4 linked regions of the Homo sapiens genome follow. The protein of the gene in region 1 purifies or fractionates together with the protein of each later gene. This does not show direct contact. Each region holds a gene or a part of one and is shown in the gene's direction. Other genes may lie near its edges.

Region 1 (8,303 bases):
TCAGTGAGTATTTGTTAAATTAGTCAGGTAGGTATCTTAGGACTAGAAGGTTGCATAATGGTTTGTTTACATTTGTTCATGTTGGTACCATTCTTGCCGATATCCCAGAGGCAATGTCTGGGATATTCAGAAGTAGGTAAAATAAGTGTACTAAGCTCTTTCTCTTCTGGCCAGCTTTCTCTTCCTAGGCTAGCTTTACCACCTGAATTCATTCTGGATGAATGGTCCAGAGCCACCACTGATTGTGGGCTCTTTGGGAAGTTGTTTCACTCCCTGGAGTTTAGGTTTTTTATGAGTGAAAGAAGAGGGGAGATTTGTGGTAGGAAAGCTCTCTAGACCCTGAACAAACTTTAGATGCTGAGCCTCCACTTGCTACCGTCTGTCCATTTCTGGGCCTTCCCTGAGGCTTATGGGAAACTGGATATGTACTTGATTTAATCTTTCCAAATCTTTTGGGATAGTTTTTTGGCAGAATTGTAGTTTTAAATGATGTAGGCATATAGTTTAGAGTGACCTGTCCAGGCATTTTCCACCCTCACCCTCTGTTGTGAGAAAGAGATCTGAGAAGATATTAAGAATGGACGGTGGACAGAACACTGGCCTGCAGGCAGGGTATCCAGATTCTAATTTGGGTCCTGGTATGACCATGAGCATGTCACTTTTCTTTCACTGGTATCTTATAGCTGTGAAGTGAGTGTCCTTGCATGTTAAGCCAAAACACAAAAATCCTTTCCTTTAATCCTCGTTTTTCTCATCTGTAAACTCAATGCAGGGTTGTCATGAGGATTAAGGGAAATAATTATGTCAGGGGTCTAACTCAATATCTGGCACATACAGAATGCTTAGCAAATGAAGCATCTTTCCCCCACGTTCTGATTAACTCTGGTTTCTTTCTTTCTCAGCTGTTCATCAAAGAAAAAGGGTTCTTTTGGTCACCCACCACTGGCCCCATGGCTGCCGTGCAGATGGATCCTGAGCTAGCCAAGCGCCTCTTCTTTGAAGGGGCCACTGTGGTCATCCTGAACATGCCCAAGGGAACAGAGTTTGGGATTGACTATAACTCCTGGGAGGTCGGGCCCAAGTTCCGGGGCGTGAAGATGATCCCTCCAGGCATCCACTTCCTCCACTACAGCTCTGTGGACAAGGCTAATCCGAAGGAAGTAGGCCCTCGTATGGGTTTCTTCCTTAGCCTGCACCAGCGGGGGCTGACAGTGCTGCGCTGGAGCACACTCAGGGAAGAGGTAGACCTGTCCCCAGCCCCAGAGTCTGAGGTGGAGGCCATGAGGGCCAACCTCCAGGAGCTGGACCAGTTCCTGGGGCCTTACCCATATGCCACCCTGAAGAAGTGGATCTCACTCACCAACTTCATCAGCGAAGCCACAGTGGAGAAGCTACAGCCCGAGAATCGACAGATCTGTGCCTTTTCCGATGTGCTACCTGTGCTCTCCATGAAGCACACCAAGGACCGCGTGGGGCAGAATCTACCCCGCTGTGGCATTGAGTGCAAAAGCTACCAAGAGGGCCTGGCCCGGCTACCAGAGATGAAGCCCAGAGCCGGGACAGAGATCCGCTTCTCAGAGCTGCCCACGCAGATGTTCCCAGAGGGTGCCACGCCAGCTGAGATAACCAAGCACAGCATGGACCTGAGCTATGCCCTGGAGACTGTGCTCAACAAGCAGTTCCCCAGCAGCCCCCAGGATGTGCTTGGTGAGAAGGAACAAGGCTCTTTGGGAGTGGGCCAAGGGGAGGATATTAGCAGAGGTGTTTTGGAATAGGGAGTACATCTTGTGTTAGTCCAGCAGCAACTAAACCTGGCTAGGAGGCTGAAGATACAGGTGTGTCTTTACCCTTAGCCCTGGAGATTTCGATTTGAGAGATCTGGAGTGGGGCTTCCGCAGTTTCTATCTGTCTAATAAACAAACATCCTAGGTGAACCTGGTGCAGATAATCTTCTGTTTGGGAACCACTGATAGAGCCCAGTCCTACAGAAGGAAAAGATTTGGCCCACTGAGTGGCTGAACTGAGACGAGAACCCAGGACTCTTGGTTTCTGGGCCAGACCTGTGTTCGTTGTAGCCTCTCACCTGCCTGCTCAGTTTGCTCCTGACCCTCAAGATGTTGGTCTCTCAACTGGCTTAGAACAGGACAGTGATTTTTTTTTTAATCATTACAGTTTTTATTGTTACCTTCCCTTTTATTACAAAAATGATAGATAATAATCATAAAAGAAAAACAAAATTTACTTCAAATCTCACTACTTAGAAATAACCATTTAAACAGTTTGGTATATTTACGTTCCTTTTTTTCTGTGTATTTCTATGTATTTCATTTCAATGTCTTCTCTGTTTATTTCTATGTACTTCCTCTCAGTCTTAAAAATTCAGTATATGTGTCTGTATATATATGAGTTTTTATAAAAACAGGATTGAAGTATATTATTACTTTGTAATCTGCCTTAATATAAATGTTTTTTCATGTCACTAACAGTCACTTTTTTAGTGGCTGTTTCATGTTCCATAGTTATTGGACCAGTTCTCTGTTATGGACCATTGAGATGCTCCCTGTTTTCTCTATTGTATCATCAAGTGGCCGGGTGTGGTGACTCACACCTGTAATCCCAGCACTTTGGGAGGCTGAGGCCGGTGGGGATCACCTGAGGTTAGGAGTTCGAGACCAGCCTGGCCAACATGGTGAAACCCCATCTGTACTAAAAATACAAAATTAGCTGGGTGGTGTGCACCTGTAGTCCCAGCTACTCTGGAGGCTGAGGCAGGAGAATCACTTGAACCCAGGAGGCAGAGGTCGCAGTGAACCAAGACCTCGCCATTGCACTCCAGCCTGGGCAACAAGAGCCGTCTCAAAAATATATATACATATATCATCTAGTGAACATTCTCGTGTGTACTTACACATACATTTAGGGATAGAATTGCTGGGTCAGACTGTGCATGTTGCCAGGAGAAGGTTTTTGCATCCTTGCTGGCTGGTAGGAACCTGTTGCCCATCACCTTTGACAGCATTGGGCATGACAGTTTAACAAAGGCCTCTTCCAATTGGATAGCTGAAAAATGGCACCTTGTTTATATTTCTTTATTTCTTAAATACTAGTGACAGCAAATATGTGTCACATTTTGAACAGCTATTTTTATATATATTTATAAATTTTCCAGGTAATTTGCATATTTTCTTGTTGGAAGTTCAGTGAGAAATTTGAATGTAGGACTTCTTTTTTTTTTTTTTTTTTTTTTGAGACAGGGTTTCGCTGTGTCGCCCAGGGTGGAGTACAGTCAGTCACACAATCATGTCTTACTGCCACCTCAACCTCTCGGGCCCAAGTGATCCTTCTGCCTCGGCTTCCCAAAGTGCTGGGATTACTGTGCCTAGACAGGACTTTTTATATCATTGGCTCAGCTAATGATATAACCTATATTTTAACAGGTACATCTTTTGTTGTTGTTGTTGTTGTTGTTGTTGTTGTTGTTGTTGTTGTTGAGACGGAGTCTTGCTCTGTCGCCCAGGCTGGAGTGCAGTGGTGTGAGTTCGGCTCACTGCAAGCTCCGCCTCCCGGGTTCACGCCATTCTCCTGCCTCAGCCTCCTGAGTAGCTGGGACTACAGGCGCCCGCCACCACGCCCGGCTAATTTTGTTTTGTATTTTTAGTAGAGACAGGGTTTCACCATGTTGGCCAGGATGGTCTCGATCTCCTGACCTCATGATCCACCTGCCTCAGCCTCCCAAAGTGCTGGAATTACAGGCGTGAGCCACCGCACCCAGCCTTTAACAGGTACATCTTAATGCATTAGTATTTTCGTATAATAAGTAACTTTTAAAAGTCTGGCTTAAAAATGAATAGAAATCCTGTCTTTCTACCTCTTAAACATTTCAATTCTTCAAAATATATCTTGCGAAAAGGTCTGTTACAGGAATAACTTTGTTGGTTTTTTTTTTTTTTTTTTTTTGAGACAAGGTCTCACTCTGTGACATGGGCTGGAGTACAGTGGCATGATCACAACTCACTGCAGCCTCAACCTCCTGGGCTCAACTGAGCCTCCCACCTCAGCCTCCCAAGTAGGTGGGACTTCAGGTGTGTGCCACCACGCCCAGCTAATTATTTTTGGTTGAGATAGGGTCTCCCTGTGTTGCCCAAGCTTGTCTCAAACTCCTGAACTCAAGCAATCCTCCTCCACTGACCTCTCAAAGGGCTAGGACTATCCCTGCCACCGCACCTGTCCAGGGATAATTTTGAATCTACATCACACCTCTTTGAAAAATATAATTTAATTTTAGATAAAGTCAGAAATGCACAAATTTAATAAATGTCCTAAACGCAAATAATAGGCTAATATTTAGTTTCACAAACCAAGTAAAGCCAGCTGAAGAAGCAAATCATTAACCTATATTATACAAAGAAAATTTGACTATATTTGAAAATATTGGTCAGAAATCCAAAATTTCTAAACCAGGTAGCTATTCACACAAATCAAACTTAGTTCCGTATGCTTAGGAACAGGGAGCTAGTTTTTCCAGGTCTCTGGAGGTGGCACAGATCAAACGCCATGCATTTAAAGAGGTATTTGGTGTTGAGTACATCTCTTCTTTTTATGGCCCACATGTATGTATACCTCATTAAATTTCCAGCCACCTTTGAAGTAGAGAGAATGCCTGTGATGAGGAGCAGTATTCTGTGGTAACCAGAGACCCAGTTACTTGCCCAGGGACAGTGGTGTCTGGATCATCAGGTCTCTGTTTGAGATGGGCATCTGATAGAAATTGGGAACATAATATTTTTTGAGTGCTACTTTGTGCCAGGTCTTATTCTAAATGCTATACATGTACTATATCCATTCATGTAATCTTTGCTACAACCCTCAAATAAGGAAATTGAGGCCTTAATAGATTGAGTAACTTGCCCAAGGTCACACAGCTGCTAAGTGGCAGAGCTAAGATTTGAAGCTAGGCAGTTTGGCTCCAGAGCCCATGCTCTTAGCCACCAAGCTGCTCATAGAGATTAAATCACAGAGCCCTGTGGTTAAGCAAACAAAAATAATCTGCCTGGCAGGCTGACCCTGGAATAAGTACTCATGAATTTTTCTTTTGTGGGAGGTTCCAGAACTGTTCCCACCCAATGGAGAATCTGTTTTATCTTTCCGTTGCCCACATTGTGAAGCATTAGATGTGTGGCCTTGGGCAAGCCCTTGACCTTATCTATGAAATGAGGCAAATACCATCTTCCTGATCGCCTTGTGGAGTTGGGCTGAGGGTTACATGGTATAGTGCAGTATTTCCTGACCCTGGAGCAGACCATCCACATTAGAATCACCTGGGGAGCTTGTTAGAGCTACAGATACGAAGGCCCCATCATCTCTCCTCCACCAGAACCTCTGAGGGTGAAGCTTGGGTAGCTTTACTTTTAACAGACTCTCAGTGATTCTGATGGGCAGCCAGGTTTGAAATCCACTTGGCATAATATCCATGAACACATTTTGTAAACTTAAAATGCCAGGCAAATACTGGGAATACCTCTTCTCTAGCAGTCTGATTTTATAGAAATCCAAAGCCACAGGTTGGTTTCCCATGGCTTGAATTCATAGCGGTTCAGCAGACATCTATTGAGTACCTGTTAGGTGCAAAATCTCCTGCCAGGCTCTGCAGGAGTGACAAGGATAAAAGCTCATCTGTTGCTGAGGTCCAGTGGAATTCATGGCCTTGTGAATAGTGATGGAGAGTGTCAGCTGGTCCTCCTCTCCCTCAGAATCACTTCTCCTCTCTGCACCTTTCAGGTGAACTCCAGTTTGCTTTTGTGTGCTTCCTGCTGGGGAATGTGTACGAGGCATTTGAGCATTGGAAGCGGCTCCTGAACCTCCTGTGCCGGTCAGAAGCAGCCATGATGAAGCACCACACCCTCTACATCAACCTCATCTCCATCCTGTACCACCAGCTTGGTGAGATCCCCGCTGACTTCTTCGTAGACATTGTCTCCCAAGACAACTTCCTCACCAGCACCTTACAGGTGAGCAGTCTTTCTGACTGAGCTGATGCACATGTGGGTCAGAATTGAGGCAACAGTATGTGTTTTGTTTCTCGCTATTCTTCCATGACCCCAAAATTTTTAAATTTCAGTTTCCTAGTCTTGGGATATTTCCTGCTTTTCTCTCTCTTACTCAATTGTAAGTGCCTCTATGCCAGAAATTTTCTCTCTGTACCACCCTCTCCCTACACCTCGTCCCCAGAGTGCCTAACACTGGGGTACTTGGATTTGAATTCCTCCCACTGCTTTGGTTTACTCAGCTTAAAACAGCGTTTCTTTCTCCCTGTAGCCATGAATTGCTACAACCCAGTAAAGCAGAATTTTGAAGTTTGTTATTCCCAGTGAAACATCTGCAGCTCCTTAGATCTCATTTAAGCATTAAAATAACTTTGATTTCCTGTTCAAACAAAATGTGCCAGTTTCTGCAGAGATTCTATGACAGAAAAAGTGAAATTTGCTTTTAACTTGGCAATTAAATTTTCATTATGAGTGGTAATTAGGAAAGAAGCTTCAAACAACTTACAATCTTCATCCTATGCTATTTCCTCCCTTTGCAAACAGATTAGTCCTTTATGTACTTGGGACAGCCTCTGTCACTCACATTGTGTAACTTTCTCAAGAATAGAAGAGGCAGAAGCTGCCACTGTCAGTTTCCATACTTTCCCTCCCATGAGCTTCTTTCTTCTCCCTGTGTGTAATACCCCCATGAGGCCTGCTCCATATAAGGCAGCCTTTCACCAACCTTCCAATCCCACTCGGGGTAACAGAAGGGACGAGCATTCGTTAAATATTGGGGCTGGGCGTGGTGGTTCATGACTGTAATCCCAACACTTTGGGAGGTGAAGGCAGGAGGATCACTTGAGCCCAGGAATTAAAGACCAGCTTGGGCAATATAGTGAGACCCCGTCTCTCCAAAAATTAAAAAATTGGCCAGGTATGGTCATGTGCACCTGTAGTCCTAGCCACTTGGGAGGCTGAGACAGGAGGATCACTTAGCCCAGGAGTTTGAGGCTATAGTGAGCAATGATTATGATCGTGCCACTGCACTCCAGCCTGGGCAACAGAGTGAGACCCTGTTCACTCATTGAATCCCTTTGGAGCCTTGTAAGATGGGGGTATTATTCCCATTTTACAAATGGGAACACTTGAGAATGGTTAAATCACTTACTTGAAGTCATACAGCTGGCAGGTGGAGGTCAGGATTTGTACCCAGGCCTGAGTCTTGGTTTCCTGCCTGTGCTTATGCCCTTGTGTAGTGAACACAGTGTGAATCCCCCAGAAAGGATTCTTGATTGACATCAGTGAAGACTTCATCGAGGTCCTGTTTCTCAGAGGTACAGAACGCTTTTCTAAAGCCAACCTACTGTTGGATGAGTCCCTGTGAGCAGGCATCTGACTTAAAGCTGGCAGTTGAAGGACCTGTGTAAACCATGGCAATGAGTCAGTCAAGCGCATGATTTGAGCCTGGTCTGTTCCACTCAGAAGAGCTATAAAACTGTCCTTTTACTGGTTCTTCATATAACAGAGAAATTAAACCCCTTTGTCCTTCCTCTGTGGGGAAAATTTTCCCCAAAGGTACTGGTTATGGGTTGTGAGGCAGTGTGAGGAGGCATTAGCCTGCTAACTTGCCTCTGGCAGTGGCTGCTTCCCTCCTGATGCACGTTGATGCGTCGCACAGACACAGGAGGGCCACGGTGTTGCTGGCTGTCCAGACCATTGTTAGCACAACCAGCAGCTGAGCTCTATAATTGCCAGGCTTTGTTGCCAGCAATGATTTACAAAGCAGAAAGTGCCCAGCTGGATTGCTAGATGCCCAGGTGGGTTGTGCAAAGCTGATGGTTGGAAACATTCAGTCTTTGAACTTTTCACCAAGAAAATTCGATGTCATTATTTGGAAAAATCCAGGGCATGTGCCAAAACAAAACAAAACAAAACAAAAAACACATGTCTTTGAGCATTCTTCATATATAACATTCTACTGAAAGTGTTGAGGAATATATATACATGTGAGTTAGCCAGGGTTCCTGCCCTCAAGGGATTTGTTCATTGATTTAGCAGGTAATTGCTGAGCATCTGCTGTATAGAAGACTCTGTTCTAGAACTGGGAATATAGCTGTGAGCAAGACAGAGTCATTGTCTTGACTCTTGTAATTTGAGAAAGTTAACAGAAAGTTAACTAGCCAAGTAACTCCAGATAGCAGACTCTTGTATTTTGAGAAAGTTAACAGAAAGTTAACTAACCAAATAGCAGTAAGCAGGTAGCAGTAAGTGTTTTAG
Region 2 (5,144 bases), on another chromosome or scaffold:
TACTACCCATGAATAATTTTGTAGAGGCTGCCTAGCTTAGTGTTTGACATATATAGTAGCTGCTCATTAATTTTTTTTTTTTTTTTTTGAGACAGTGTCTCGCTCTGTTGCCCAGGCTGGAGTGCAGTGGCACGATCTCGGCTCACTGCAAGCTCCGCCTCCTGGGTTCATGCCATTCTTCTGCCTCAGCCTCCTGAGTAACTGGGACTACAGGCGCCTGCCACCACACCCAGCTAATTTTTTTGTATTTTTAGTAGAGACGGGGTTTCACCGTGTTAGCCAGGATGGTCTCGATCTCCTGACCTCATGATCCGCCCATCTCAGCCTACCAAAGTGCTGGGATTACAGGCGTGAGCCACCGTGCCCGGCCTCATTAAATATTTGAGAGTGACTGAATGCTGTGTGTTTAAATAGGGTTTTACCTTGGCTCCCATATTATATTGTTCTTTTTTGGAATTACTGTACTTACAAATCAGTAATAAAAAGATAACTCAAAAAATAATTATAATATGTATATATGTACAGAACTGCAGAGAGAAAGATTGGGATACCCGGAAACTGCTAAAAGATGCTTACCTCTGGGGAGAGAGTGAGATTGGAGACAATACTTGTATGGCTTGAATGTTTACATCAAAATGTATTCATTTATTAGGTATTTTTAAAAATTTTTTAAGAAAAATATTTTAATTAATTGAATTCACTTTTTTTTAAGCTAAATCTTTTGATTCAGCTTGTACGCTTTTCCACAACATTAAATGCACACATATCTGCCAGCATTACCATTTGTAGAAGGGATTTTTGTGAAGTAGACTGACTGTGTGTATTAGTCTTTTTCTGTGGGTAACATTCTAATTATTTTGAGATGTGTAGTAACTAAATAATAATAATAATAATAATAATAATAATAATTACTAAGTGGCTCTTTCTTTCTTGGGATCTGTGTAGGGCCAAGGCCTAATGAGTCAGATTCTGATGATCTGGATGATGAAGACTTTGAATGTTTAGATAGTGATGATGACTTGGACTTTGAAACACACGAACCTGGCGAAGAGGCTTCCCTGAAAGGAACACTTGATAATCTCAAGTCATACATGGCCCAGATGGACCAGGAACTAGCACACACCTGCATCAGCAAAAGTTTCACCACTAGGAACCAAGTGGTATGTGTGTTTTTAACCTCTTTCTCTTTCTGAGTCTAGTATGTCAGATAGCTAAAACCATATTTTATCATAGTTTTTCTTTTTTTGGTGTGTGAGATTTGAAATAAATAAGAATGTTAATTGTTTTCCTAACTCTGGTAGGATAAAGGATCATAGACTTAATTTTCCAAAACATAAGCTTCATTATATTACTTATTCTACGTTATCTATCAGGATTTAAAATAAAAAGTCATATAATATGCTCAAATTAGAATGCGATTGTACACTACTACTTCTTAAATACATTTTTTTTCAAAAGTAGTTTAAAAAAACTACAGCTTAAATGGATTTTAAAAAAGAGAGGGCACATGTTCTCAAGACCTTTTGAGACTATGCCTTGGGCCACAGTGGATTAAAACAAAATAACATAAGTAAATAAACAGGATCTTAAACATTCAAATAACTTTCCAGTTTTAACAGTTTATTTTGTATTTTTCCCTAATTTAGAGCCAAATTTAGGATTCACCTTCCGTTTATGTTTTCATCCTAGTTTTTAATGCCACCACTGTCTAATCCTAAACAGAGGTATTATGGAAAGAGCAAGAACCCTGGAGTCTTATGGGTTAGGGTTTGAAGTCTAGCTCAGCTGTCCACTGTGAATGTATCTATAAACCAGTAATCCTCATATCATAAAATTAACATGAGAACCAAATTAGACAGCAGTAAAACCTACAATAGGCCTTTAATTAATGTTAATTCTCCTTGCTTTGATCATCTAAACCACTTTTAAAACTATAGTCACTTCCAGAATTGTCAAAATCTAGTAGAAACCATACATTAGATTTATCTAAAGCAGTATTTCTTAAATTTTAATGCGAATATAAACCAAAAGATCATGTTACAACATAGATTCTGATTAAGTAGGCCTGGGATGAAGCTTGAGATTTTCCTTTTTTTTATTATTATTTTGTTTTATTTTATTATTATTATTATTATTTTATTTGAGATGGAAGTCTCCCTCTGTCACCCAGGCTGGAGTACAGTGGCACGATCTTGGCTCACTGCACCCTCTGCCTCCTGGGTTTAAGCAATTCTCCTGCCTCAGCCTCCCAAGTAGCTGGGACTACAGGTGCGCACCACCGTGCCTGGCTAATTTTTGTATATTTAGTAGAGACAGGGTTTCACCATGTTGGCCAGGCTAGTCTCTGGAGCTCCTGACCTCAAGTGATCCACCCACCTCAGCCTCCCAAAGTGCTGGGATTACAGGCATGAGCGACCACTCCCAGCTGAGTTTTTCCATTTCTAATAAGCCCCAAGCGATGGAGACTCTGCTGCTCCATGGACAATGCTTTGGGTAGCAAGGACATAAAAGTCTATCGAGCTGTAATCTTTCAAATCCTTTCCCCAGCTTGTGGAATCAGAGGCCCAACTAACAATTTAGAATCTTTGTGGTTGGAACCACAAAGCCTTGTGTTTTTACTTTTAAGCTTTTTCACTGGGGGGAAAGAAAGGAACACTCGCTTCTTTCATTTTGAAGAAAATTTACATTATTATTTCATTTAATATTCACTTTTATGTTTGTTTCTTTTAAGACTCTTAGACAAGTTATAAATGTACCTTCTTAATTCTATTAGCCCTTGAGCTATTTCAAAATAGACATGCAATTTATTCGATTTGCAGGAATCTTTCCTGGAGAGAAATGTGTTATAACCTTTAGAACCAAGTTTTATTATGTGTGCTAGGCCATATAACTTGTAGACTTCATTTTCAGTTTATATCACCAAGGATAAGAAGTTTCCTTTTTAATTTGGAATGCAAATTTACATTGTGGCTTAGTTATCTTTTTATTGTAACCACCATGCAACCTAATGATACATTAGCCCATAATTTTCTTTTCCCTCTATGAATAAGGAACCTGTATCCCAGACTACCGATAACAATTCAGATGAGGAAGATTCTGGTACGGGAGAATCTGTTATGGCACCAGTAGATGTAGACCTGAACCTGGTTTCAAATATATTGGAATCCTATAGCTCCCAAGCTGGACTGGCAGGACCTGCTTCCAATCTTTTACAAAGCATGGGAGTGCAGCTGCCTGACAACACCGATCACAGACCAACAAGTAAGCCAACAAAAAATTAACCAGCACATTTAGCTTCTCTTTTTTCTTTTTAAATAAATATTGAATATGATTCTGTTCATTTCTAGTTTAGATTACTCATTTAGTAAAAATGTTTCTTCATTACAAGTTTTACAGATTGACTTCTCCATGAGCCCCAAATGTGGCCCTCTTGGCACAAGTCTTTGTGATCTCAGCTGTGGGTTATACACAGGTTTTGAACTCGGCAGGGTAGAATCTAGCCCCTAGACAACCTTGAGATGAAATTCACACACTTCATGCTAAAGACATACCCTACCACAATATACCCTTGGAGTAATTCTAAATATTTAAATTTCTCCCTTACTGCTATTCATCCTCAGATCAAAATTTCAAGTTGACAAATTTGGATTTGAAAACTCATTCACTTTTTCAATTTTTTTAATGAGGCATAACATGCATATGGTTAAGTGCACAAATCTTAAGTGTACAGTCAGTGAATTTTTGCATGTATGTATGTACCTGAAGCAAGATATAGAACTTATTTACTTGTAAATAACAGCTATATTGATATGTCACATACCAAAAAATTTACCCTTTAAATTATACAATTCAGTGGTTTTTAGTATATTTACAAAATTGTGCAACCATCCCTACCATCTAATTCTAGAATATTAGAAACCCCATACTCACTAATAGTCTCTCATTCCCTTCTACTCCCAGCCCCTAGAAACCACTAGTCTACTTTCTGTCTCTATGGATTTGCCTATTTTGGATATTTCATACCTGATACTGTACTTAATTGTTTTAATTAATTAATTGGTTTGATATTTAATATAACTGATATATCTTTTGCTAAGATGAAATGTTTATTTCTTAAAATGATGCTCATATTCCTCCTAAAATAAATCAAGTATTATCTATATATCATAAAATTCACCATTAAAAGCAAAAAAAAAGTCTTCTTTACAGACAGCTCCATATACTGACCATGTTTTTATAATCTAGGTCTCTGGATTCTTCTTTATTATTGTATGCAGCAGAGAGATGCCTTTACTATATCTTACCCTATCCAAGTAAAAACAATGGAAATAGTTTCATACTGTTCCCTCTCCAGTGACCAAGGGAGGAATTAGGAGAATGGTGTAGTAGAGTTCTCATCTGAGAACTTACTATCACGAACTAATAAAAACTGAATATGGCCGGGCATGGTGGTGGGCGCCTATAATCCCAGCTACTTGGGAGGCTGAGGCAGGAGAATAGCTTGAACCCGGGAGCCGGAGGTTGCAGTGAGCCAAGATTGCGCCATTGCGCTCCAGCCTGAGCGACAAGAGCGAAACTCCGTCTCAAAAATAAATAAATAAAAACTAAATATACCATATCCCACTCCAATCCTTTGTCTTCCTAGTGTTCACTGAAATGAACTAAGGAAGAGGATAAGTGTTACACATTGACTAAAGTAACACATCAGATGATATTGTGCAACATTTTAACATTTTAAATAATAATTATTTTAAATATATTTTTATTGTTTGTTTTGAAGCTACATTTCTCATGTTAAAAATGGGGCCAGAATGCCGTCCCAGCTCAACTGTGAGAAAAAGGTTTCCCCCCATCGCACTTGTGGTACATTAGGTTTATCTTCATTGAGGATTAAATATTGGGTAGAGAAAGGGTGATAGGCAAAAATATAAATGAAATTTTTTTTTATTCTGGTTGCCACGGCTGACTGACTTTCAGCCAGGCTCACAAGATTTTACCTGTTTTTCTATTCTGCATCATGGACCCAGATGGGTTCTATTTATCCTTAGCACCTTCATAATTTATTGCCCATGTATATATTCTCAGGTCAGGTAGGTCCTGTACCAAAGTTTCTTTTATTTATCTGCCATTTTCAGTATTCCAGG
Region 3 (9,191 bases), on another chromosome or scaffold:
CTGGTCTCTACTAAAGATACAAAAATTAGCTGGGTGTGGTGGCATGCGCCTGTAGTCCCACCTATTCGGGAGGCTGACGCAGGAGAATCACTTGAACCTGGGAGACGGAGGTTGCAGTGAGCAGAGATCGCACTGCGCCACTGCACTCCAGCCTGGTGACAGAGTGAGACTCCGTTTCAAAAAAAAAACCTTTGGTCCTCCAAAACATCCCCTATGGTTGGAAGGCAGAGTACCAGAAGAGAAAGAGTATGAGCTCTACAGTGGACAAACCTGGATTTAGAATCCTACCTCCACCATGTTCTTGCTGTGTGACCTTGGCCAAGTCATTCTGCCTCTCTAGGCCTCAATTTCCTTATCTATAAAATGAGAAGAAAACTATCTATTTTTGGGTTATCATGAAGATTAAATGAGATAAGGTATGTAATGTTTACAATTAGGAGTCTGGTATGTGGTAGGTGTGCTTCAAAAAATGTGATTTACACCAGGCATGGTGGTTGGTGTCTGCAATCCCAGCTATTCAGTAGGCCAAAGTTGGAGGATCGACTGAAGCCAGGAGTTCGAGACCAACCTGGGCAAAACAGCAAGACCCCATCTCCTAAAAAAATGTACAAATTAGCCAGGCAGACGGGTGTAGTTGCTCACATCTGTAATCTCAGCACTTTGGGAGGCCGAGGCATGCAGATCACTTGAGGTCAGGAGTTTGAGACCAGTGTGGCCAACATGGCAAAACTCTACCTCTACTAAAATATAAAAAGGATAAAATATAAAAATTAGCCGGGTGTGGTGGTGTGCGCCTGTAATTCCAGCTACTCAGGAGGCTGCGGCAGGACAATCGCTTGAACCTGGGAGGCAGAGTTTGCAGTGAGCCGAGATTGTGCCACTGCACTCCAGCCTAGATGATGGAGTGACACTGTCTTAAAAAAAAAAAAAATTAGCCAGGCATACTAGCTCATGCCTGGAGGCTGAAGCAAGAGGACAGCTTGAGCCCAGGAGTTTGAGGCTGCAGGCAGCTATGATGGCACCATCGCACTCCAGCCTGGGTGACAAGACCCCATCTCTTTTTTTTAAAGAAGTGATTTTTCCCTATTCTGATGGTGCTAAATCAATTACTTATTTAATTCTAATGATCTTATATAAAATGTTGACCTGAAATAGTCAGCTGTCCCAGCAAAGCATCATCTGGGGTAAAAAAAAAAAAAAACCATGTAGATCAGCTTTCTGTCAAGTACAACTTCCACTGCTATAATTATGCAATCATCAACCATCACTGCAAGACAACAAAAACCCCAAAGCTGATGTTACTGAAATTGCTAAATACAATAATTACTAGGGTCTCAAAATCATGACCACCAATTCCTTTAGGAAAGCAACAGAAATCTTTGTAATTATAAGGGAAAAAGGCTGATTAGTTATCCCAGATGGTGGTCTCTACAGCAGAAGGTTTTTGGTCACTGGCCAGAATGGCAGCATACACAGAAATCTTTCTCATATTGCTGTTTTCTCACACTCATACTATGAAAGCACAATATCAACAAAAGAACTTGAAAGAAAGAAAGAAAGAAAGAAAGAAAGAAAGGGCATTCTCCTTTGAAATTTAGCCTTCTTGGCACTGATTCCTGGCAAGAGGCTTTACCCTGGTGAAATAATCTCTAGGAGGAAAGCATAGTCTAAAAAATCTATCAACATAGCCCCTCTCTATGGAAAAAGTAAGGAACGCATTTTTCCCATAAGTGTAGATTCCTTTAGGAAAGGAAAGGAAGCTCAAGACCAGCCTGGGCAAATAGCAAGACTAAGCACCCATGCTGAGTGCTGTGCTACATGCTTTAATTATACTATCCCTCAAATCAAACCATGAGGTAGATAATAACCCTTCCTCAAAGATAATAGGTAATTTGCTCAAGGTTTTATAGTCATTAAGTGGAAATACCCAGTTGACTTTTATCAAGTCTTAAAACGGTTGTGCCAATTCTCCCTTATGAAAAAGAATCCAATTTAAACTCTGGTTCCAAAACAAAACAAATAAATAAACCCAACAGACCTCAGTCACCAAAAGGATGACCATTTCTGTCAATTAGCAGATTGTTTTTTCTGCCTCCTAATAGTCCTTAAAATGAACTGAGGGACTCACATAAAATGCCCTTTTCTAAAAAAAAAAATCTTAAATCTATAAAGAAAATAGTACCTGTTGACAACCACAGAACGCTGAAGCAAAAGCAAGTATAAAACAGGTACAGGCTTCTCAACCACTTCGCAGATGTCTGCCAATAATATCCTGATAAAATCCAGGAAGCAGGATTTGGCTTGACTCCCAGCCTCTTCTCCATGGCCCTCCAGACAGGCAGAACCAGTACACTAGAAGGACAGAAAGAGAAGAAATTACATGCCGAGTAATTAATAATTAATTCCTGGAAATGTGGAATGCTAGAAAATATGACAGATTAGGGGAAAGAAAAATTTCAAGTTTGTCTTTAACGGCTCAACCCTGCCTATAAATTTTAAACCTGGGCTTTGAGGTAGCCTATAATTATCAGAATAACAACACAGCAAGGGATATCAAATGAATCCACTGAAAACTGAAACTTTATATTCCTTTTTTTTTTTTTAATCTAACAGTAAATCACCTATGTGGTAGAATGGAAAGAGTACCAGCCCGCAGACAAGAAGATCTCTGAGTTTTAGTTGCAGTTCTGCTACTAACAGCTTTGTGACTTTGACCAAACACACTTTCTTACTTTTGAGGAGAAGAGGTTGCACCCTCAGAGGTAAAGTAACCTGAGGGTTATGTCTGGCCCAGTATTTTTTAAATTTCTGAATGCAAATGTCTTTAGGCAGGGCATGCACTCTCCAGTCTGCTACTGTCTCCGCCCACCACTATTATCATGAAAATCTATTCAATTTACACCTCAATGCTACCCACCCCAATCCCTGCATTCAACAGATACTTACGTCAGGCACTATGCTGGCTACTCCAGAATCTAGGGGCTGGATTATTTAGGTCTCTTCCAGCAGAAAAACTCATTTACCATAAATTTCTCCCCTCATATAAAACTTTGCTATATTGTCTAAATTAGTACGTAAATATTGGCAACATTATGAGGGTTGACTGAGTTCTGAAGAAGCAATTCAAAAACTTCTGTCCAACTATGTACCTGTCATCTACATCCAGCAAACGACACAGGCTGCCAACCCCTAACTCCTATCCACGGCCAGCATACAGGGAGATCAGCATTGCCTGGGCTGGATACCAATACTGACTAATACCAAGAAACAGCCACAGACATACACACAGCTGCAAAACTAAGGTGCAGCCCACCCAAGAAAAGGCTTTTGCAGAACCACATGCATCTGAAGGACTTCATCGTTCTCATTCACTTCCATCCATTCCTATTTCTAGTTGTTTTGTAGTTGTATTTCAGGGAGCAGGGGGCAGAAAGGAGGTGTGTGGGCCAGAGACATGTTCAAGAGATTATGAAATGGAGCCTAAGTTAGAAAGTACATCCAGCAATTTCTCTAGCCTCCCAAGAGGGAACGAGTGAGTATGCATGTGTGCATGTATGGGTGTGTATGAATCTTACCCAACACATTTCTGCCTACCACAAAAGGATTTAAAACTCAAGGTGACTCAACAGCTGTCATCAATAGCCTGACAGGTGGGTGGGAGAAGCAGAAAAGAAATGAATAGCTTTTGAAAAATGGAGTAATAAACACCACTGGACTAACAAGCTGATTAGAAGTGCCATGTCTAATAAATCTTGCGTCTAAGAGAAAGGCAGAGTTAATTTCATTTGAACTCCTAACCAGTCATTCCTCTGAAACCTATAATTGCCTAAGGGCACAAATCACTGCTAGGGTCCAGTTAAAGGCTTGCTGACCAAACGCAAGAACAACAACACATCACCAAGATCCGAATAGTTTGTTACTGAATCAAAGGGTAACAACCCAGGGAGAGAACACACACCCCCACAATACTTGACAAATGAAAATCTAGAGAAGCTCACAATAGTTCTGGCATTTAGGGCGTTACAAGTACACCCAAAATAAAAGCACTCTCTGTTGCAGCAGCTGTTCAGACAGAGCAGGGGGTAATGTTTACTTAATACTTCAGGTTGATGGGGGATGTATCACAGTTCAGTCTGTCAACTACATACGTGGAACTCCATTTATGTACACAGCGATAAGATATGTTTGAACAACGATGGAGCACGTCTGAAACAATCTATTCAGTTGGTATGAGTAATCGAGAATAAAGCTCTTTTTTAAAAAGTCTCAGATATTTGGGAAAGTTACAGAACAGACTGCCATGAATAGCTTTGCTTATATTTGCAGACACTGTTTTCCAAATAGCTGGAAAAATGAACAGATTGTTCTGGGAGGTCGTCTTTCCAATTTGTTCCTAGTTTTCAGTCTGTTAATCACAGGAGAGAGCACAAGGAGAGTCAGCTAATGCTCTTCACTAACTGCAACTACTGTCAGTTGGACACAACCACTATGAGACCAGAAGCCAAAGAGTTCCTGGAATCCCGCCAGAGGTTATCAATTTTGACTTCCTTCATTTCACCTTTGTGCTCACTGCAGCCACTACAGGACCCTCTGTGGGGCATAATTTTCAAAATCGTGGATGAGGCAGGTTTCACATTATAATGGACACATCGTGCTCAACCCCATCCCCTCTTCATTCTGCACCAACTTTCTATCTCGGTGGAGAGACCAAACATCAGAGACAGCAACTAAAGACTAGGCTGCAGAGGTCGAAGGTGGAAGAAGGACGGCAGCGCCCCGAACCCCGGCTGTCTGCCTGGCTCTCAGGGGATGGAGGGAGCTGCATGACTAGGCCCAGGCCCGAGAGAAGCGGGGTTCAGCCTGGGACCCAAGCTGCGCACCTGCAAGGACAGAAGCAGCTGGCTGCCCTGGCCGAGCCAGGGGCGCCACCTCCGGACCCAACATCCGGCCAGCGCAGCCGCTGACATCGCCCGTCCCGCTTGCCCCTCCCCTGAGCCCATGGTCCTCGGCCTGGCAGCCAGCCGCCCCCGGCCACCTACCGGGGCTCAGGGCCACATAGCGGGGCCCCGGCTCTCGGCGGCCTCCGCCTCCTCCTGGTCCATGGGCTCGGGGACCCCCAACCTTCGCTCCCCTCACCCGGAGGAGGAGGAGGAAGAGGAAGAAGGTAGTGCGGGCTCCCCACCCGGACAGCTACCTCTCGCCTCAGCCTCCCTGGACAGCGACGGCGGCCGGAAACACCGCCTCCTCCCACCTCCCCGGGACCGACCCGGAAACACACTCTCCATGCTAACCAAGCCCTCCCGCCCCTCCCCCGGGAAGGGCAATGCCGGCCGCGAGACCAAGGGGGAGGAGGGGCAGTGCTGGGCGGGTAAAACTACGCACAAGCGAAGGAATCTGGGCCCCCAGCCTCTCGCCGCCCGCTCTCCAGAGGCAGTCTGCACCTTGCCTCCTTCGCTCGAGCCCCAGCCCCCAGACTCGGGCAATACCCACAAGCAAGATGGCGGCAACGGCGGCACCCCCTACTGCTTAGCACCCTGACTTGCCATTGGCCAGAGCCCGGAGTGAAGCAGCCGCGGATTCGTCAAGAGCGGTGCGGGGGTGGGGGTGGAGCTGCAGCAGCCTGGAGCCAGGAGTGGGCAACGCGGCGTGAGCAGCGGCCCGAGGCTCCCGGAGCATCGCGCTGGGAGAAGACTTCGCCGCTCGGGGCCGCAGCCTGGTGAGCTCAGCCCCCTTCGGGCCCTCCCCTGCATCCCAGCCGGGGCCTCTCCGAGCCGGCGCTGATCGATGCCGACACACCCCGGGGACCCTATCGCGACTCCATCGCGCCATATCGCGACACCATCGTGCCCTGTCGAGACTCCATTTTGTCACAGCCCTTTTCAATATATATCTTTTTTTTTTTTAATTTGCCCTGTCATCTTTGGGGGCTGTCTCCCATGTCGTGATTTTGACGTGATCTCTCCGTGACATCACCGCGCCATCGTGAAGTGTGATCTCATCGCCGCCCTGTCGTGACTTCATCAATGTCGTGTTGTGACCTGGCTGCGGCGGGACAGGTGGTGACCGCCAGGAACCCTCCTCCCCTTCTCATCTCCCCATCTCAGCAGCCCTGCTTCGATTATCCGGCTTTTGGATTCTCCGTTGTCCTGGGAACTATCCGGGACCCCCTCTTGCTTCTCCAGCCCCTGCCGGCATCCACAGGCTGGTAGCGGGACGGGGAGGGCGAGAAGAGGGAGCGCAAGGGGTTAATTCTGCTGCTGCCGCCGCCGCTGCTGCTGCTGCTGCAGCCTCTACCCGAGGGAGGGAAAGGAGAGGAGGCAAGGAGCCTGCGGGGGCGACTGAGAGCCCTGGCTGGAGGGGTGGGGTCCCCAAAGGGGCCTCCAAGCCTTCCCTGTTGAGCGTCTTGTATTCTCACTTCTGAAGCGTATCTCTGCCTCTGAAGAAGGGAGGGGAAAGGAAGCCTGGGGTGTCCTTTTCTCCCATGTCAGCCTGAGTCCGGATAATCGAACTTCACCCATGTATGTCTCCATTTCTCCCTGTCTGTCCTCACCACTCACTCCCTCTGTGTCCCTGTGGAGGGAGATAAAACCCAGCCTCCGGTGCCAGGGGGACAGCTGAGCAGTGGGGCCAGCTCCCGCCCACCCCCAGGAGACTGGTGAGGAGAGCTGTCCGGCTGAGCAGCAGCATGCATGGTCCTTCTTTCCCGCTTTCTGGAGGTGACCTTGGACCAGGGTCCCTTCTTTATCCCTAAGGATTTGCAGATCCAGCCCCTTAAAGGGGCTTCTGGGGGGAGGTCAGTCCTGAGGAGTCCACCCCTCCAGATTCTCTCCTCCCCTCCCTCTGTGCTAATCCCTCCCTCCCTCCATCCTCCACTCTCACCCCCACCCCACCCCCGTCCCTCCTCTGCAGAGGGATGCTCAGTCCCTCTTGTGTTCACAGTTGGGCAAGGCGAGCATCATGGCCTCGGATTGCGAGCCAGCTCTGAACCAGGCAGAGGGCCGAAACCCCACCCTGGAGCGCTACCTGGGAGCCCTCCGTGAGGCCAAGAATGACAGCGAGCAGTTTGCAGCCCTGCTGCTAGTAAGGAACTGGCTGAAAATTGGGAGGTGGGAAGGGCTGGGTGGTTGGGCCCCCAAGGAATGGGGTCAGTGAGTCCCCAAGGATATGTACGTAGTGCTAGCAACCCTGGAGGCACCAACGAAGGCCCAAGACCCCTACCTTTGTGCTCTTTTTTGCTCCCCCTGAGAATGGGGGCAAAGAGGAGAATGGGACTGAATAAGGCTGTGGCACTAGGGGCTGCCTGGGTCTGTTTTCTGGGGCGTCCCAGAGCAGATGGAAGCTGACTCATAGGGTAACAGCAGCAGGTAGTAACTAGTGCAGAGTACTTGAGGGCTGGGGATGGTTGTTCTGGGCCTGGAGAGAGTAGCAGGGCTGGAAGTGGCTGGGGAGGGGTCCTAGGGGAAGGCCAGGATGGCAGTAGGTAGGTTAAGGAATGGGAGCTAGTTTGGGGCTTAGCCTTTTTGGAGGAACCCAAGCTGGGGACAGCAGAGCAGAAGCTGCAGTGCTAGGAAGGGGGGGTTGTGTGTGGGGGGTGAAGGGAGGAGGGAGTACAGCCGCTGCTTGTTTGCCATGGCAACAAGGAGAAGGCTCTGGAGTCAAGGGCTCACACTGCAGCAGAGGAGGTGTTTAGGTGAAATGTAAGGGGAAATGTTTTGACAGGCGGAGCGGCGAGACACAGGAGCCATTTCCCCTGAGAAGGTGGCAGAAATGGATCAGGGACTTCTCTGGAGGGAGCAATTAAGGAAGGACTTTAAATCCTTGGGAGATCTTAAAACATTGAGTTCTAAGCCCCTTCCATCCCAGGTTGTGGGCATTTAGACATCAGGAAGAACTTCTCAACTGGCCAGGTGTTGAAATGCTCAAATGAATGGTTGAGGAAGACTAGACCTCACTTCCATGGGACAGTCACAGATGAGAGGGATCCCAGAGGTCACATTTATCTGCCTCTAAGGAGAAAAAAGGAGCTGGATGAAATGACCTCAGATGAGTCCTGTTGCATAACCTCATCTTGCTAGTCCTCAGTGCCCCAGGATGCAGGAGAGGGACAGTCTTTCCCACTTCTTCCTTTCATCCTGATGATAGCACATACCCCCTATAGGTGACCAAGGCAGTCAAAGCAGGTGACATAGATGCCAAAACTCGGCGGCGGATCTTCGATGCTGTCGGCTTCACCTTCCCCAATCGTCTCCTGACCACCAAGGAGGCGCCGGATGGCTGCCCTGACCATGTTCTGCGGGCTTTGGGTGTGGCCCTGCTGGCCTGCTTCTGCAGTGACCCTGAACTGGCCGCCCATCCCCAAGTCCTGAACAAGATTCCCATTCTTAGCACCTTCCTCACAGCCCGGGGGGACCCGGACGATGCTGCCCGCCGCTCCATGATTGATGACACCTACCAGTGCCTGACGGCTGTAGCAGGCACACCCAGAGGGCCTCGGCACCTCATTGCTGGTGGCACCGTGTCTGCCCTATGCCAGGCATACCTGGGGCACGGCTATGGCTTTGACCAGGCCCTGGCACTCCTGGTGGGGCTGCTGGCTGCTGCCGAGACACAGTGCTGGAAGGAGGCGGAGCCCGACCTGCTGGCCGTGTTGCGGGGCCTCAGTGAGGATTTCCAGAAAGCTGAGGATGCCAGCAAGTTTGAGCTCTGCCAGCTGCTGCCCCTCTTTTTGCCCCCGACAACCGTGCCCCCTGAATGCTACCGGGATCTGCAGGCCGGGCTGGCACGCATCCTGGGAAGCAAGCTGAGCTCCTGGCAGCGCAACCCTGCACTGAAGCTGGCAGCCCGCCTGGCACACGCCTGCGGCTCCGACTGGATCCCGGCGGGCAGCTCCGGGAGCAAGTTCCTGGCCCTGCTGGTGAATCTGGCGTGCGTGGAAGTGCGGCTGGCACTGGAGGAGACGGGCACGGAGGTGAAAGAGGATGTGGTGACCGCCTGCTATGCCCTCATGGAGTTGGGGATCCAGGAATGCACTCGCTGTGAGCAGTCACTGCTTAAGGAGCCACAGAAGGTGCAGCTCGTGAGCGTCATGAAGGAGGCCATAGGGGCTGTTATCCACTACCTGCTGCAGGTGAGGGTGCAGTGACCCACAGAGGGGGCCCAGTATGGGGGGAGCCAGTGCTGGAGCTGGGAGG
Region 4 (8,303 bases), on another chromosome or scaffold:
GTTGGTTTGAACTCCTGGCCTCCAGTAATCTGCCAGCCTTGGGCTCCCAAAGTGCTGATATTAGATGTGAGCCATCACTCCTGGTCTCCATGCTTCTCTAAGTCAGGGTCTTGCTATGTGGCCCAGGCTGGAGTGCAGTGGTACAACCATGCTCACTATAACCTCAAACTCCTTGTCTCAAGCAATTCTCCCACCTCAGTGCCCCCCAGTTAGCTAGGACTACAAGCATGTGTCACCATGGCCAGCGATTTTTTTCTTTTTGGCAGAGATGTGGTCTCGCAGTGTTGCCCAGGCTGGTCTTGAACTCCTGGCCCAAAATGATACTCTCACCTTGGCCTCCTAAAGTGCTAGGATTCCAGGCATGAGGCACAGTGCCCAGCCTATTCCATGCTGATGTGACAAGCATTTCTAAGCTCAATAGAAGGGCTATATATACCAATCCAAGCAATTACATTTTGCATAACCTAAAATCCTCTATAGTCCTATCTAAAAGGTCTCTTTGTTAGCCTTGAAAGGACAGAGACCGTATTTGTTCCTAAATACCATAATTTTAATATGTTAGTATCTGGTGAGTTATAACTCTAATTTATAAAACACTGCAAGCACCCTTCACTATAAAAAATTGATGCACCAAAGAAGCTAGATGGAAACAGTTTGCTAGGAAAAGTGTCCCAGTTATTTTAATCCATTTGATAGTTTTACTATGTGCAATGCACATTTTATTATAAAAGACAAAACAGGCTGGGTATGGTGGCTCACTCCTGTAATTCCAGCACTTTGGGAGGCTGAGGCGGGTGGCTCACCTGAGGTCAGGAGTTCGAGACCAGCCTGGCCAACATGGTGAAAACCTGCCTCTACTAAAAAACAAAAATTAGCCAGGCTTGGTGGCGGGCGCCTGTAATCCCAGCTACTCAAGGGACTGAGGAAGGAGAACTGCTTGAACCCAGGAGGCAGAAGCTGCTGTGAGCCGAGATCACGCCACTGCACTCCAACCTGGGCGACAGAGCCAGACTCCATCTCAAAAATAATAAATAAATTAAAAATACCTATTTGTAATATGTGAGGAATGAGACATCAAAGTTCTGCTATGGAAAGGAAAAAAGTAGTTCCTGGAGTTCATAAATGGTTTTTCCTTCTTAGGTATCAAACACCTTGCCTATAAATGTCTGACACCAAGCTGTCTCCCACATACTCATTGCTCAGGGAAACCGTAAGATATTTGAGATCTTCTGTAATCAGCTGTAGTACTATAAAACTTTCTGAATAAACCTGCTAGTCCTGTGGCCTGTGGCTACCAAATCATGTGCCAAGATGTATCAGGGCCCCATGGAGGAACTCACAACTACCTTGGGATATTTTAAATTTCAGAGTAATTCAGTGATACTCAACATAAGCCAAGACACTAAGCAAACTATTAGTTTCAGGTTGTTCAGTTTCAATATGAGATTGTACTGCAAACCCCTCCATTAAGTTTCATCTTCTAAAAACTGAATTTCTGGTGGTTGCTATAACTCAAAAAAACACAGGTACCCACCCCACCAAAAAAAAATAATAATAATAATGGGGAACAAGGAGTGAGATGATAGAAGTCATTTCAAAGTTTGAGAAGTTATATAGTATCCAAAAGCCATACACATTCCATTGATAGGTATGGTTATATAAGAAACTATATATATTTTTCTTTCCAATAATGTAAATTCGTTTTTCCAATAGCTACTAGGCTGCTAAGACAATATAGTTATGTTGCTTGGATACAGCTATGTCATCAAAGCAACTGCTAGTTACTCCTTTTGGCTTAAGAGCACAACAAAACTCCTCAGACACCAAGGGCACTATATACCAGGAAGGCTTGTGAACCTCTGTCCTAGCGAGTTATTTTATGTGGTAGTTTCCACTCTAAGATACAAAGGTGAAAGCTGTTCAAGGTAATGTTTTATGGAAAATGTAGCACTTTTTTTTTTTTTTTTGGGTGGTGCGGAGAAGGAGTCTCACTCTGTCGCCCAGGCTAGAGTGCAGTGGCGCTATCTGGCTTACTGCAACCTCTGCCTTTCATGTTCAAGCAATTCTCCCGCCTCAGCCATCCTAGTAGCTGGGATCACAGGTGTGCACCACCATGCCCAGCTAATTTTTACATTTTTAGTAGAGACGGGATTTCACCACGGTGGTTGGCCAGGCTGGTCTTGAACTCCTGACATCAGGTGACCTGCTCACCTCAGCCTCCCAAAGTGCTGAGATTACTGCCATAAGCCACCGCACTTAGCCAGCACTATTTTTTTTTTTTTTTTTTTTTTTTTTGAGTCGGAATCTCACTCTCTCACCCAGGCTGCAGTGCAGTGGCACGATCTCAGCTCACTGCAACCTCCACCACCGGGTTCAAGGATTCTTGTGCTTCAGCCTCCCAAGTAGCTGGGACTATAGGAGCGCGCCACCATGCCTGTCTAATTTTTGTATTTTTAGTAGCGATGGGGTTTCACCATGTTGTCCAGGCTGACTTCAAGTGATTTACCTGCCTTGGCCTCCCAAAGTGCTGGGATTATAGGCATGAACCACCACGCATACCCACTTAGCACTTTTCTATCAAGCAACTCTTGTGGCTTTCCACATTCCGTCTTTTGAGCACTCTTTTTTTAAAAAAATTACTTTCTTGCTTTGGTTTTAGACCCTGAAGCATTCTTCTTTTAACATCCCCAGGAGATAAAAGAATTTTTCTTTGTTCAAGAAAGACTCAAGGTCAAATATCACTCTCTCACTGCCTCCATAACAAATTTTAGACTCTCAGGACTCCATTATCATGTTGTCAAGTATGCAGAAGCTAGTTTAGATTATATAATAAAACAAACTGGAAGTACAGAGACATGGTTAGTTACTTTGCAATAAAAGGACCGCTGGAGAAATTATTGTCCCTTTTTGTGAAGTGAAAAAAAATAAGCCTTCTGTCAGAAATGCTGGGTTCCAATCCTATTTTGGCTTTTTTTTTTTTTTTGGGGGGGGAGACACAGCCTCTCTCTGTTGCCCAGGCTGTAGTGCAGTGGCGTGATCTCGGCTTACCGCAACCTCCACCTCCACCTCCCCCTCCCCCTCCCCCTCCCAGCCTCCCAAATAGCTGGTATTACAGGCATACGCCACCTCGCCTGGCTAATTTTGTATTTTTAGTAGAGACGGGGTTTCTCCACGTTGGTCAGACTGGTCTCAAACTCCCAGCCCCAGGTGATCCATCAGCCTTGGCCTCACAAAGTGCTGGGATCATGGGCTTGAGTCACTGCGCCTGGTCTGCAGTTTTTGTGTTGTGTTTTGAGACGGAGTTTCACGCTGTTGTCCAGGCTGGAGTGCAATGGCGTGGTCTGGGCTCACTGCAACCTCCACCTCCTTATTTCAAGCGATTCTCCTGCTGCAGCATCCTGAGTAGCTGGGATTACAGGTGCCCATCACCACACCCAGCTAATTTTTTGTATTTTTAGTAGAGATGGGGTTTCATAATGTTTGCCAGGCTGGTCTCTGAACTCCTGACCTTAGGTGATGCACCCATCTCAGCCTCCCAAAGTGCTGGAGATTACAGGCGTGAGCCACCGCACTCGGCCCTGTTTGTAGTTTTAATGTGTTAGCCAACTTGTATAAAGGGTCAGCCAGTAAATATTCAGCTTTGCAGGCCACAAATATCTCTTATCTCATTCACATTTTTTTTTTTTTTTTTTTTGGTCTCATTCTGTTGCCTAGGCTAGAGTGCAGTAGTGTGATCTTGGCTCACTGCAACTTCCGCCTCCTGTGTTTTTTTAAAAATATACATTTAAAAAATGTAGGAATCATTTTTGGTTCATGGCCTAACCACAGGTTTTGATAATTTAAATTTGTTTTATCTGGGACATGATCATATAGCTTGCTAAGGCTTTTTTTCTTTTTCTTTTTCTTTTTCTTTTTTGAGACAGAGTCTTGCTCTGTCACCCAGACTAGAGTGCAGTGGCGTGATCTTGGCTCGCTGCAACCTCTACCTCCTGGGTTCAACTGATTGGCCTGGCTCAGTCTCCCAAATAGCTGGGACTACAGGTACGTGCCACCACGCCCAGCTAATTTTTGCAATTTTAGTAGAGACGGGGTTTTACTATATTGGCCAGGCTGGTCTCGAACTCCTGACCTCGTGATCCGCCTGCCTCTGCCTCCCAAAGTGCTGGGATTACAGGTGTGAACCAGCACTTTTTTTTTTTTTTTTTTTTTTTGAGACCGAGTTTCACTCTTGTTGCCCAGGCTGGAGTGCAATGGCCTGATCTCGGCTCACCGTAACCTCCACTTCCCAGGTTCAAGCGATTCTCCTGACTCAGCCTCCTGAGTAGCTGAGATTACAGGCATGCACCACCACGCCTGGCGAATTTTTTTTTTTTTTTTTTTTTTTTTTTTTGAGATGGAGTCTTGCTCTGTTGCCCAGGCTGGGGTGCGGTGGCCTGATCTCAGCTCACTGCAAGCTCCGCCTCCTGGGTTCATGCCATTCTCCTGTCTCAGCCTCCCGAGTAGCTGGGACTACAGGCGCCTACCACCATGCCTGGCTAATTTTTTGTATTTTTAGTAGAGACAGGGTTTCATCGTGTTAGCCAGGATGGTCTCAATCTCCTGACATTGTGATCCTCCTGCCTCGGCCTCCCAAAGTGCTGGGATTATGGGCGTGAGCCACTGTGCCCGCCTGAATTTTTTGTAATTTTAGCAGAGACGAGTTTCTCCGTGTTGGTCAGGCTGGTCTCGAATTCTCGACCTCAGGTGATCCACCTGCCTCGCCTCCCAAAGTGCTGGGATTACAGGCGTGAGCCACCGCGCCTGGCCTGCTAAGGCTTTCATAAGAAAGTATCACACACTGGGTGGCTTAAACAGCAGAAATTTATTTCTTCACATTTCCACGAGGCTGAAAATCCAAGGCGAAGGTGTCAGCAGGATTAGTTTCTTCTGAGGCCTTTCCTTGGTTTGCAGATAGCTATCTTCTTTCTTCCCTCTGTGCTAATCTCTTTATATAGGAGGACAACAGTCATTGGATTAGGGTCTATCCTAAGACCTCATATTTACTTGTCATTTAAAGACACTTTCTCCAAATACAATCCCATTCTTAAGATGTACTGGGGGTTAGGACTTCAATGTATTAATTTTGAGGAAACTGATAAAATTCTAGATTGCTGAATTTGAGGAAAGGAGATTGATTCTCCTGGTTTCAGTGAACTTAATGTAAAAAGTGAAGCTCTGATGTACCAGTGTTTTTTGTTGTTGTTGTTTGTTTTGAGACAGAGTCTCTGTTGCCCAGGCTGGATTGCAGTGGCATGATCTCAGCTCACCGCAGCCTCCACCTCCCGGGTTCAAGTGATTCTTGTGCCTCAGTCCCATCCCTCAAGTATCTGGGACTACAGGCCTGCATCACCATGCCCAGCTAATTTTTTTTTTTTTTTTTTTTTTTTGAGACAGTCTCGCTCTGTTGCCAGGCTGGAGTGCAATGGCGCAATCTCGGCTCATTGCAACCTCCGCCTCCCAGGTTCAAGCGATGCTCCTGCCTCAGCCTCCCAAGTAGCTGAGATTACAGGCGCCTGCCACTGTGCCTGGCTAATTTTTGTATTTTAGTAGAGATGGGGTTTCACCATGTTGGTCAGGCTGGTCTCGAACTCCTGAGCTTAGGTGATCCACCCACCTCAGCCTCCCAAAGTGCTGGGATTACAGGCGTGAGCCACCGTACCCTGCTTTTTTTTTTTTTTTTTTTTTTTTTTTCCGTATTTGTATTTGTAGTAGAGTCGGGGTTTCGCTGTGCTGGCCAGGCTGGTCTCTAGCTCTCCTGGCCTCAAGTGACCCACCTGCCTTGGCCTCCCAAAGTGCTGGGATTACAGGTGTGAGCCACTGCACCCAGCCAAGTAACATAATTTTTGATAGGACTAGATAAACGGCTAACTCTACTAAGCATTGTTTGGTTTTTAAATCTTTCCTATTATGAAATTGGAATCATTCTGAAACTAAATCTTGTTAGACCCATAGGTTTTAACTTGGAATGTAGCTGTTAGGGTAAAAATGTAGTTTTTGTTTAAAATTGTAACAAACTGCCCTGAAATAATGCTATAATGGTGTCGAAGGTTAGTATGTGAATGTTTAGTTAATGAATTCCAGCTTGACTTTCCCTACTTTATCCTTTTGTAGGCAGCCTGCTTCTGCAAAGTGGTACGATCGAAGGGACTATGTCTTCATTGAATTTTGTGTTGAAGACAGTAAGGATGTTAATGTAAATTTTGAAAAATCCAAACTTACATTCAGGTAAGTTAAGCTTTTTATCCAATGATGTAAAATAGTCATTCACACAACTGAATAACTTTGACTGGCTTGTCTTTTCATTGAAGTTATTATTAATCTTTGTCTCTTTGAAGAGGCTTAATTCTTTCTTTATTATTTTATACAGTTGTCTCGGAGGAAGTGATAATTTTAAGCATTTAAATGAAATTGATCTTTTTCACTGTATTGATCCAAATGTAAGTAGTCTTTATGCTTTAATCCAAATTTTAGTTGTGAGGAAACAGACATACCAAGTATTCTTTTTAGCAATGAGCATTAGTTCTGTTTTTCTTAACAGTGAGGCAAACTATGTATATTTACATTTTGTAGAATATTTCCTCCAAAATTGGTTTCTGCATACTTTTTGTTTTTGCTATCACTGTTTGGGCTTAGAGTAGTATCCTTGAGGCTCGTCTCATCTTTTTTATTTGTTTTGTTTTTTTGTTTGTTTGGTTTTGTTCTTTGAGACTGCTGCAGTACAATGGAGCGATCCCGGCTCACTGCAACCTCTGCCTCGTAGGTTCCAGGGATTCTCCTGCCTCAGCCTCTGGAGCAGCTGGGATTACAGGCACATGCCACCATGCCTGGCTAATTTTTGTGTTTTTAGTAAAGACCATGTTGGTCAGGCTGGTCTCAAACTCCTGACCTCAGGTGTTCCACCTGCCTCGGCCTCCCAAAGTGCTGGGATTACAGGCATGAGCCACTGCGCCCGGCCAAGGCTTCCCTTATCTAAGAATAGAATCTTTAAACCATTCTGTGGTTATATCATTTTTAGTTAAAGTTTTTAAGGTTTTATTCTGTTTATCGTGTGCAGGAAAGAAAAAAATGGTACCAGGTTAAACTTTAAACTTTATTGTTGTGCAGATTATTTCAGTAGGAAATAGAAGGGAAAAAAAAATTTTTTTTTAAATGAAACTTAAAGGGGGTTGGGGCAGTTGGATAGTTTGAAGTTTTTAGTAGTCAAGGGCATGTTTCAGAGTCCAGAGAAAATTTAGGTAAAGAAATGAGAAAGGTGAGAAATGACAAGCTATTTTCTATCATGTAGTGATGCTGGAAAGATAAATGGTATGATGGTCCTTTTGTTTTTAGGATTCCAAGCATAAAAGAACGGACAGATCAATTTTATGTTGTTTACGAAAAGGAGAATCTGGCCAGTCATGGCCAAGGTTAACAAAAGAAAGGGCAAAGGTAGGTTTCATTTTCCTTTTTTGAAAAGTTTGATATTTTTATTTTAGGTAATAAAAGATGTACTTATTTGATGTAAGGAATATGGCTGTGTTTTTGTTTCACAGCTAAGTATAAAGCCTCATGTTCATGTTTTTTGTCTACTCAGTTTTAATACGAAGTGTGATCAGAATATCAGTTATTAACTGGTGTAGAATCTTTTGTACTTAAGAGACAGACTTTGCATAAATTACTCAGCTATCACATGGGAGGGGACAAAGCTTGGTGAAAAAATAATCAACTGAAAATAGTTCTTACTAGTAAATTTGTTTTCAAAAGGTATGTTTAACAATTTTCAGTGTTTTTTTTCCCCCAAAACAGGGTCTCTCTTTGTCACCCAGGCTGGAGTGCAGTGGCACGATCTTGGCTCACTGCAGCCTCAGTTTCCCAGGCTCCAAGTGATCCTCCCTCCTCAGTCCCCCAAGTAGCTGGGACTGTAGGGGCATGCCACAACACCTGGCTAATTTTTGTATTTTTTGTAGAAAGGGGTATCACAGTGTTGCCCAGCTTGGTCTTGAACTTCTGGGCTCAAGCAGTCTCCCCACCTCAGCCTCCCAAAGTGCTGGGACTACAGGCATGAGCCACGACACCAGCCTAGTCTTTTTTTTTAGGTAGTCTCATGCCACTCATGCCAGAGTGCACTGGTGTGAACATGGCTCACTGTAGCCTCCACCTGGGCTTAAGCGATCCTCCCACCCACCTCACCTCTCCAAATAGCTAGGATTGTAGGAATGTGCCACCACGCCCAGGAAATTTGTTTTTTTGTTTTTTCCCCAGATACAGGATCCACTATTGCTCAG

What was found.
Region 2: the proteins of AAR2 (region 1) and ECD purify together in Homo sapiens (affinity purification with mass spectrometry; 5 studies listed by BioGRID and IntAct, with this or other methods). This does not show direct contact.
Region 3: the proteins of AAR2 (region 1) and NCDN purify together in Homo sapiens (affinity purification with mass spectrometry; 3 studies listed by BioGRID and IntAct, with this or other methods). This does not show direct contact.
Region 4: the proteins of AAR2 (region 1) and PTGES3 purify together in Homo sapiens (affinity purification with mass spectrometry; 3 studies listed by BioGRID and IntAct, with this or other methods). This does not show direct contact.

Annotation. Positions count from the first base shown.
Region 1 is NC_000020.11:36,238,919-36,247,221, forward strand, and holds part of AAR2 (protein AAR2 homolog), read left to right. Parts: intron 1-902; 5' UTR 903-950; coding exon 951-1,707; intron 1,708-5,778; coding exon 5,779-6,008; intron 6,009-8,303. UniProt on the Homo sapiens protein: Component of the U5 snRNP complex that is required for spliceosome assembly and for pre-mRNA splicing.
Region 2 is NC_000010.11:73,132,720-73,137,863, reverse strand, and holds the end of ECD (protein ecdysoneless homolog), read left to right. Parts: intron 1-945; coding exon 946-1,160; intron 1,161-3,050; coding exon 3,051-3,281; 3' UTR 3,282-4,196; downstream 4,197-5,144. UniProt on the Homo sapiens protein: Regulator of p53/TP53 stability and function. Inhibits MDM2-mediated degradation of p53/TP53 possibly by cooperating in part with TXNIP. May be involved transcriptional regulation. In vitro has intrinsic transactivation activity enhanced by EP300.
Region 3 is NC_000001.11:35,552,168-35,561,358, forward strand, and holds the start of NCDN (neurochondrin), read left to right. Parts: upstream 1-5,631; 5' UTR 5,632-6,023; coding exon 6,024-6,056; intron 6,057-6,939; coding exon 6,940-7,080; intron 7,081-8,158; coding exon 8,159-9,127; intron 9,128-9,191. Other genes in the region: KIAA0319L (dyslexia-associated protein KIAA0319-like protein), read right to left, coding at 2,183-2,324. UniProt on the Homo sapiens protein: Probably involved in signal transduction in the nervous system, via increasing cell surface localization of GRM5/mGluR5 and positively regulating its signaling. Required for the spatial learning process.
Region 4 is NC_000012.12:56,670,913-56,679,215, reverse strand, and holds part of PTGES3 (prostaglandin E synthase 3), read left to right. Parts: intron 1-6,150; coding exon 6,151-6,264; intron 6,265-6,406; coding exon 6,407-6,476; intron 6,477-7,368; coding exon 7,369-7,467; intron 7,468-8,303. UniProt on the Homo sapiens protein: Cytosolic prostaglandin synthase that catalyzes the oxidoreduction of prostaglandin endoperoxide H2 (PGH2) to prostaglandin E2 (PGE2).